3 separate regions of the Homo sapiens genome follow, and regions 1 and 3 are each linked to region 2. The links come from fine-mapping of genetic effects on plasma protein levels. A gene starts in region 2. Each other region holds a variant in brackets. All regions are shown on one strand. Distances are from middle to middle.

Region 1 (2,760 bases), 27 kb before region 2:
GGTGCCCTTCCTCTAAAAAAAAAAGAAAAGAAAAGGAAAAAAAAGGTACTCAAATGCTACTTTTTTTTTTTTTTGAGTCGGAGTCTCACTCGGTCGCCCAGGTTGCAGTGCAATGGCGCGATCTCTGGCTCAATACAACTTCCGCCTCCCGTGTTCAAGCAATTCTCCTGCCTCAGCCTCGCGAGTAGCTGGGATTACAGGCGCCCACCACCACGCCCGGCTATTTTTGTGTTTTTAGTAGAGATAGGGTTTCACCATATTGGCCAGGCTGGTCTCAAACTCCTGACCTCGTGATCCGCCCGCCTCGGCCTCCCAAAGTGCTGGGATTACAGGCTTGAGCCACCGCGTCCGGCCCTCAAATGCTACTTTTGTGCCTACTCAAGACAGCTCTTTGTTGAAGACAAGAATTTGTTCCCGAAGTGGTTTTTTTGTCCCCAGATTCAGTCCGGGACAATGTGGTGGTAAATAGAATCCCCAGCTAGCCAATGCAGCTGCAATACTGAATATTCATTCCCTACAGGAAAAAATTAGAAACAGTACCTTGGAATGATACACACACACACACACACACACACACACACACACATCACACAATATATGTAAACATTAGAAATTTTTGTTTTAAATAATTTCTAAACCTGTTGCCATATTAATGTGGTGGAGGCTGTGTTAGTGAAATAATATGAAGAATGATTCTAGAAGCCTGGGCAACATAGCAAGACCCCATCTCTAAAAATTTAAAAATTAACCAGGCATGATACTGCACATGTAGTCCCAGCTACCCGGGAGGCTGAGGTGGGAGAATCGCTTGAGCCCAGGAGGTTGAGGCTGCAGTGAGCCATGATCATGCTACTGCACTCAAGACTGGGTAAAAGAGCAAGATTGTCTCAAAAAGCAACAAAAAAATCTGAATATAATAACAATTGTTAAAGTCTGGGTGTCTTTTAAGACTTGTTAGAAACAGCAATTTCAAGGCTGGGCGTGGTAGCTCACACCTGTAATCCCAGCACTTTGGGAGACCAAGGCGGGTGGATCACCTGAAGTCAGGAGTTCGAGACCTGCCTGGCCAACATGGTGAAACCTCATCACTACTAAAAATACAAAACAAACAAACAAAAAAAAAAAAAACTAGGTGGGTGTGGTGGTGCATGCCTGTAATCCCAGCTACTGGGGAGGCTGAGGCAGGAGAATCCTTGAATCCAGGAGGCGAAGGTTGCAATGAGCTGAGATTGTGCCATTGCACTCCAACCTGGGCAAC[A/G]AGAATGAAACTCCGTCTCAAAAGAAAAAAAAAAGATTTTGATGTAATAAATTATGGTGGCAGTATTCTTGATATTTAACCATCTTTGTGTTTCTGGAATAAAATCTGCTGGAACAAATTATACTACCCATTTGTTTTACTGCTTTATTTAGAATTTTTAAAATCTATTATGATAAATGAGATTGGGCTGTAGTTTCTTTTTGGTATATTCTTTATCTGCTTTTGGTAGAAAGAGCAGGTTGCCAGATAAAATGAATCAGAGAGTTTCCTATCTTTTTTATCTATGGTCTGCAAATCAAACTGGTTGGACCAACTCACACTCCTCTAGCAATGTGTCAGAGTTCCCAGTTATCTCCAGCTCCATTAACACATGGTATTGCCACACTTTTTGTTTTTTGTTTTTTTTTTGAGACAGTCTTGTTCTGTTGCCCAGGCTGGAGTGCAGTGGCGCAATCTCAGCTCACTGCAACCTCCACCTCCTGGTTCCCGGGTTCAAGCAATTCTTCTGCCTCAGCCTCCCGAGTAGCTGGGACTACAGGAGCGCACCACCACACCCAGCTAATTTTTGTATTTTTAGTAGAGATGGGTTTCACCATGTTGGCCAGGATAGTCTTGATCTCTTGACCTCGTGATCTGCCTGCATCAGCCTCCCAAAGTGTTGGGATTACAGGCCTGAGCCACCATGCCCAGCCAGTATTGCCACACTTTTAGGGTAAAGTTTTTGGATATGCGATGGCTTCTCATTGTAGTTTTTATTTGCATTTACCTAAATATTAATGAGGTTGATCACATTTTCAGACAGGTTTGGCTTTTGGGATATCATCTTTTGTGAAGTATCAGTTCAACTTTTTTTTTTTTTTGAGACAGAGTCTTGCTATGTTGCCCAGGCTGGAGTGCAATGGTGCGCTCTTGGCTCACTGCAACCTCCGCCTCCTGGATTCAAGCAATTCCCTTGCCTCAGCCTCCCAAGTAGCTGGGACTACAGGGGCACGTTGCCATCCCGGCTTTTTTTTTTGTATTTTTAGTAGAGACGGGGTTTCACCGTGTTGCCCAGGCTGGTCTTGAACTCCTGAGCTCAGAGCAATCCACCTGCCTCGGCCTCCCAAAGTGCTACGATTACAGGCATGAGCCACTGCAACTGGCTTATTTATTTATTTTTTTTTTGAGATAGTCTTCCTCTGTTGCCCAGGCTAGAGAGCGGTGGTGCGATCTCGGCCCACTGCAACCTCCACCTCCCAGGTTCAAGCAATCCTCCTGCCTCAGCCTCCCGAGTAGCTGGGATTACAGGCACGCACCACCAGGCACGACTAATTTTTTTGGGTTTTTAGTAGAAAGGGGGTTTCACCATGTTGACCATGTTGGCCAGGCTGGTCTCAAACTCCTGACCTTAAGTGATCTACCCACCTCGGCCTCCCAAAGTGCTGGGATTACAGGCATGAGCCACCATGCCGGCCCAGTTCAACTCTTTTCTCATTTTTCTATTGAGTTTGTCTCTCTCTTTT
Region 2 (2,760 bases):
ACATAGTGAAACCTTGTCTCTACTAAAAATACAAAAATTAGCTGGGCATGGTGGCGGGCGCCTGTAATCCCAGCTACTTGGGAGGCTGAGGCAGGAGAATCGCTTGAACCCGGGAGGCGGAGGTTGCAGTGAGCGAGATTGCACCACTGCACTCCAGCCTGGGCAACGGCATGAGACGCTGTCTGAAAAGAGAAAAAAAAAAAAAAAAAAAAAAAAAAAAAAAAAATATATATATATATATATATATATATAAAATTAATACAATTGGATAATAATAGTATGTCCCTCATAGGAGTGTGATGAAGATTAAATAAATCAACATATATAAAGGCTGGCACATAGTGAGCACTGTATAAGTATTCACTGTTATCCTGCAGTTATTTATTGAGCTCCTTCTGTATGCATACTAACAATATAGACAGCAATAAGACCTATTATCTCTATCTACAGGTCTCTGTCAGTGTAGTTGGGACAGATAAACCAAGGATGACAAGCTGTGGTGAAGCTGGGCCTGAACTCATGGGCTCAAGTGATCCTCCCACCTTGGCCTTCCAAAGTGCTGGGATTACAGATGTGAGCCACTGTGCCCAGGCCCGTTGGCTGTATTCTGATAGAAGGCCTGCAGAGGTGTTAAAGCAAGGACTGATACAATTAGGTGATTAAGTCTGTTTAAAAAGATTGACAGGTCAGGGGAGAAGAGCGGCACACGGAGGTGAAAGGAGACAGAGATGAGGACCAAGTCATGAGACTGTCATGACTGCCTTTCATGATACTGGAATACAGTTGAGGGGGTGAAGCGAAGAGAAAAGGAATCCAGGGAAGAAACGTAAAGTCAGGAGGGCAGCAAACTAGGGCATCAGGGCCAGCCCCCTTTCTCAACTGGGCCCCACGCTAGTGCAGCTATGGAAGGCGCTGCTTGCTGAAAAATCCATATAGTACGCACCGTCTGCAAAGTCTCACCGGATGGGGACACTCTCCTAGTTGTGTGGCTTCCTTTTGTTTATGAGCTTCAAAGGCTGAATTACTCACCCTCAAACCCCCTCAGCGGGGTGTGGGGCCTGTAATTTGGGAGCGTCTATGCTAGGGTAGGGCAGCGGATGTCCACAAGGCCTGAGCCTCACACCCGGCTCCTGCAGCCTCTGCAGATTAAGGTCTGGTGACATGAGGTAAACACTCACTGAAGATGCTCTAAAAGTTGGCAGTCCCGGGCCGATGGTCCCTGAACTACAATTCCCACAATCCATTGGCGGGCGGGGGGTTCCAAGCCAGCCAAAAAAATGCAGGCTCTCTCTGGATGCAGTTTGAGGTGGCACTACACGTTCGCTTCCTTGACCCCATCCAAATTCAGCCAAGCTCCACCAGAACCTCCCTCAAGCCTTCAAGGAGGTCGGGTGACCCACCCAATACAGGCTAGGATGTCCGGCCTAGAAGAAGGAGGTGTGGCCGGGCGATGCCTATAGGGGCTACCCCCTTCAAATACCTTCGCATTTGCTGGGCAAGCGTTCTGTGTCATCGTCCTCCTCCTTCAACATCCCAGCCCAAGCCTCGTGCACGGCCAAAAAAAGGAAAAGCAATATTCCCAACCGCACAGGTCCCATGACAAAGCGCCGTCTACAAACAATCACCGCTTGCCTTCAACTTCGGGAAGGTAGTGTGGGTCCCTTAAATTCCCAGGCGGCTAGCGGCAACCTTAAATCCAGCCGAGGAAGGTCGGCGCATGCGCAGGATCAGCCCAACAAGGGTGGGGCCTCGTTGCTACGGGTTTCCCTGCCTCCGTTTTGTGGCGCCTCTTGAAGGTCCTGGCAGCCGGGTAGTGAAGGAATAAATTGCAGTAATTACACCAAGAGGGAGTGCTCCTTATATATAGATGTAGAAACAAACTTTTAAAATATAATTTCATTCTGCGAGCCTAGAGGACTTATTCTGGTACGGGGAAGGGGCAGTGACTTGCTCTTAGGCTCTGCCAGGACCTGCTCCCACGAGGGGGCGGGGCCAAGATGGCGCCGAGCGCCGGGTGAGCAGCGTCTCGGCTGCCGCTAGAGTTTTCCTGCTCCCCGCGCTCGGGTGGCGGGGGCGGGTCTGAGTGGTACCCCGGAGGAGACCCTTTGAAGGTCCCTTGTGGGGACTGGAAAGAGGACGGTTGGTTGTGTGTCTGTGCTCGTGGGGACCCCGTGTGTGTGCCTGCATTGGAGAGATGTTGCAGGAGATGGGGTGGGCTCTCTGAACCTCCTTTCGCGCTGCCCGGGGATCTTCGACCTGCTTCTCTGCTGGGATCTCGCTTAAGTTAACCCTTCCCTGGGACGCCTTCCTGCCGCCTCCACTGATCTGAGGAGATCCTGTGACTGTAGCGTGTTTTATGAGCCTTTACTGGCAGAGGGTACCGCCGGGTATTGAAGGATTCGTAGGAGTTCGCCAGGGAAGTGGGACACGACCCCCTCTTGTAAACCCGGCGCCAGGCACAGAGTATGTCTCGAATAGTTGTGTTCCCTATAGATAAGACTTATAAAAGTCGGGGAGGAGATCAGGGATGGTTTGAAAAGAACCAATTTGTTTTTCGGCCTCCCTCTTCCCATCCTTCCAGCACGGCCCCACCCTACCTGTACTACTCCTAAGCAGTATTGATATGTTAATCTTCCTAATGTCCAACTGCAAGTGTGCCACTTTAATTTTTTTTTGTTTTTTTTTTGAGACAGGGTTTCCGTCTGTTACCCAGGCTGTTGTGCAGTGGCACCATCTTGGCTCACTGCAGCCTCCAACTCC
Region 3 (2,759 bases), 60 kb before region 2:
ATTATAGGCATGAGCCACCACACCCGGCCGGGACAAAGCCTTAAAGGAAAACTTTCACATGAAAGCAATGGAGATGAAGAATGAGGAAATGAGGCAGGAGAAGGACAACTCTTCCTAGTATTCTCTCCGAAGAAGAGAATCAAATGATACTCACTTAGCAGGTAGCGAGATCACTGCTCTTTGTAGAGAAAGATAATCATGGCTCAGGAAGTCATCTATCATTCATCCATAAATGGGAGAGTAATATGTATCTAGAGTTAAATTTCACCCCCTTGAAACATAAACCACATGTCTTATCAATTCAAGTTTATAACTTTGATATAATCTGGTCCCCCACAGCAGCACTGACAGAAACAGAAATGATTCAGAGAAAGCCAATTAAAACAGCCAGGGGATAAAGCAGATCTGTATGAAATTCGCTTTTTTCCTTCTGGAAAGGTAAAAAACCAAGATATATTATTATAACCTACACAGAATAAACTCATATATGGTAATAAATAAGGATACACAGACCTATTTACAAAATCCCCAAGTAGAAGAAATAGGGGACACTAGCCAAAAAGTATATACAATTTACCAGGCAACAAATAAAGAACTCTTTACTCCCCCATCTGCCAGCTCTCAGCCCCCACCAGGGTTGGTACATGCTGAACATAGAAATGTGTTTAAGAGAGGTTTAGACAAGATGGATGATGGATTAAAAACAGGATGTGCTTGAACCCAGGAGGCGGAGGTTGCAGTAAGCCGAGATCGCGCCACTGCACTCCAGCCTGGGCGACAGGGCGAGACTCCGTCTCAAAAAAAAAAAAAAAAACAGGATGTACTACTATTTTGATGTCTACAACATCTAGGACCGCCAAAAAAAACACCTGGAGCTGGAGGGAGGGTGTCACTGTGCTGAACGAGTATAGCACTTCTGGTGTTTTCACACAGTCCCACGCATATTATCATCAATGTGGGAAAACGAGGGGGAAGGCTGCCAGGGACACAGGAAGTGGCCACACAATGCAACATCTACTTACCCCTCTGAGGTATGGTTTGAGTCCCTGTCATCAAAGGGTAGACTGGCAGAGGAACTAGAAGATGCAGACAAGGCCCTCTTGGTATCTCCCACAGCTCTTTGCAACGGGGAAGACATGCTTGGAGAGGAGGAGCTATGAGGCCAGGAAGATGAGGACCACAGGGTAGGTATGGCGATCCAGCTGGGGAAGAAAGAGAAGAAAGGGCTCCTACCACAGCACTTCTCCATCCCCAGCCCTGACCAGTCCCTTTCTTTCCAAGGGAATGGTTCTAGAACTCTGGGGTCAGGTGAGGGGGACCAAAAACTAAGACAAAGGCTGGGCACCGTGGCTCATGCCTATAATCCCAGCACTTTGGGAGGCCAAGGCAGGAGGATGGCTTGAGCCCAGGAGTTCAAGACCAGCCTGGGCAATACAGCAAGACCCCAT[T/G]TCTAAAAAAAAAATAATAATAATCATTAGTCAGGTGTGGTAGAGCATGCCTGTATTCAGCTATTCAGGAGGCTGAGGTGGGAGGATTGCTTGAGTCCAGGAGTTCAAGGCTGCAGTGAGCTACGATCGCACCACTGTACTCCATCCAGCTTGGGTGACAGAAGAAGACCCTGTCCCCCCTCAAAAAAATAGTAATGATAAATAAGACAAATGGCTGGGCACAGTGACTCATGCCTGTAATCCCAGCACTTTGGGAGGTCGAGGCAGGCAGATCACCTGAGGTCAGGGGTTCGAGACCAGCCTGACCAACATGGAGAAACCCCATTTCTACTAAAAATACAAAATTATCCGGGTGTGGTGGCATATGCCTGTAATTCCAGCTACTTGGGAGGCTGAGGCAGGAGAATCGCTTGAACCTAGAAGGCGGAGGTTGTGGTGAGCTGAGATCGTGCCACTGCACTCCAGCCTGGGCAACAAGAGTGAAACTCCATCTCAAAATAAATAAATAAATAAGACAAAGAGCTGACCTAAGGCATCAAGGGATTAAGCACAACAACACCCCAGAAACTGGCCAGCAGGTTTGGAGTTGCTCTCCAAAAGCTGAGGAAGTCACACACCAGGGTAGCTTCAGACACATCTCTCTCTAGAGGCTGTGGAAGTGCAAACTGCCTACTGCAAGGAAATTTAACTCATAGGTATTTTCTTTAAAAAAAAAAATTGCACACTGGGTGTGGTAGATCATACTTGTAATCCCAGAACTTTAGGCGGCTGAGGCGGGAGGACTGCTTGAGCCCAGTAGTTCAAGACCAATCTGGGCAACATAGCAAGACCCCATCTCTACAAAAAATAAGCAAAAACTAGCTAGGTGTTGTTGCGCACACCTGTGGTCCCAGCTACTCAGGAGGCTGAGACAGGAGGACTGCTTGAGCCCAGCAGTTTGAGACCAGCCTTGGCAACATGAGACACACCCAAAAAAAAAAAAACAAAACCCAAGCAAGGTACACACCAGGGCAGCTTCAGACACAGCCCTCTCTAGAGGCTTCAGAAGTGTAAACTGCCTGCTGCAAGGGAATTTAACTCATAATTAAAAAAAAAAAAAAAAAGGCAAGGTGCCCAGGGTGGCTCAAACCTGGAATCCCAGCACTTTGAGCAGCTGAAGCAGGAGGACTGCCTAACCCTACGAGTTCAAAATCAGTCTGGGCAATATAGCAAGATCCTGTCTCTACGAAAAAACCAAACCAAAACCAAAAAAACTAGCCAGGTGTGGTGGTGCACCTGTAGTCCCAGCTACTCGGCAGAATGAAGCGGGAC

Alleles and levels. Positions count from the first base shown, and alleles are read on the strand shown. Strength reflects both the effect of a copy and how common the allele is. Not every link is listed here.
In carriers of allele G in region 3, the plasma level of the protein whose gene starts at base 1,709 in region 2 tends to be lower than with T alone (moderate association).

What was found. PIP is the posterior inclusion probability: the model's chance that the variant is causal. The UK Biobank Pharma Proteomics Project read protein levels with antibody pairs (Olink). The fine-mapping took linkage between variants from a reference panel, not from the people measured, so its PIPs are less certain.
Region 1: its variant is fine-mapped to the plasma level of the CNPY4 protein (UK Biobank, PIP 0.96).
Region 3: its variant is fine-mapped to the plasma level of the CNPY4 protein (UK Biobank, PIP above 0.99).

What each region holds. Positions count from the first base shown.
Region 1 is chr7:100,145,448-100,148,207 of GRCh38, reverse strand. No RefSeq gene overlaps it. Among named protein-coding and RNA genes, the nearest start is that of LAMTOR4, 2.1 kb to the left of the region's middle. RefSeq lists an enhancer at 1-287. The variant A/G (reference allele first, on the strand shown) is at 1,259.
Region 2 is chr7:100,118,583-100,121,342 of GRCh38, reverse strand. It overlaps CNPY4 (canopy FGF signaling regulator 4), which reads right to left and starts at 1,709. Exons shown (of 6, transcript NM_152755.2): 1 at 1,481-1,709. The coding sequence starts at 1,598. It overlaps TAF6 (TATA-box binding protein associated factor 6), which reads left to right and starts at 1,985. Exons shown (of 15, transcript NM_139315.3): 1 at 1,985-2,139. RefSeq lists enhancers at 1,013-1,082, 1,453-1,672, 1,883-2,032.
Region 3 is chr7:100,178,936-100,181,694 of GRCh38, reverse strand. STAG3 (STAG3 cohesin complex component) reads right to left here. Exons shown (of 34, transcript NM_001282717.2): 2 at 1,023-1,202. The coding sequence starts at 1,138. Among named protein-coding and RNA genes, the nearest start is that of STAG3, 2.4 kb to the right of the region's middle. The variant T/G (reference allele first, on the strand shown) is at 1,449.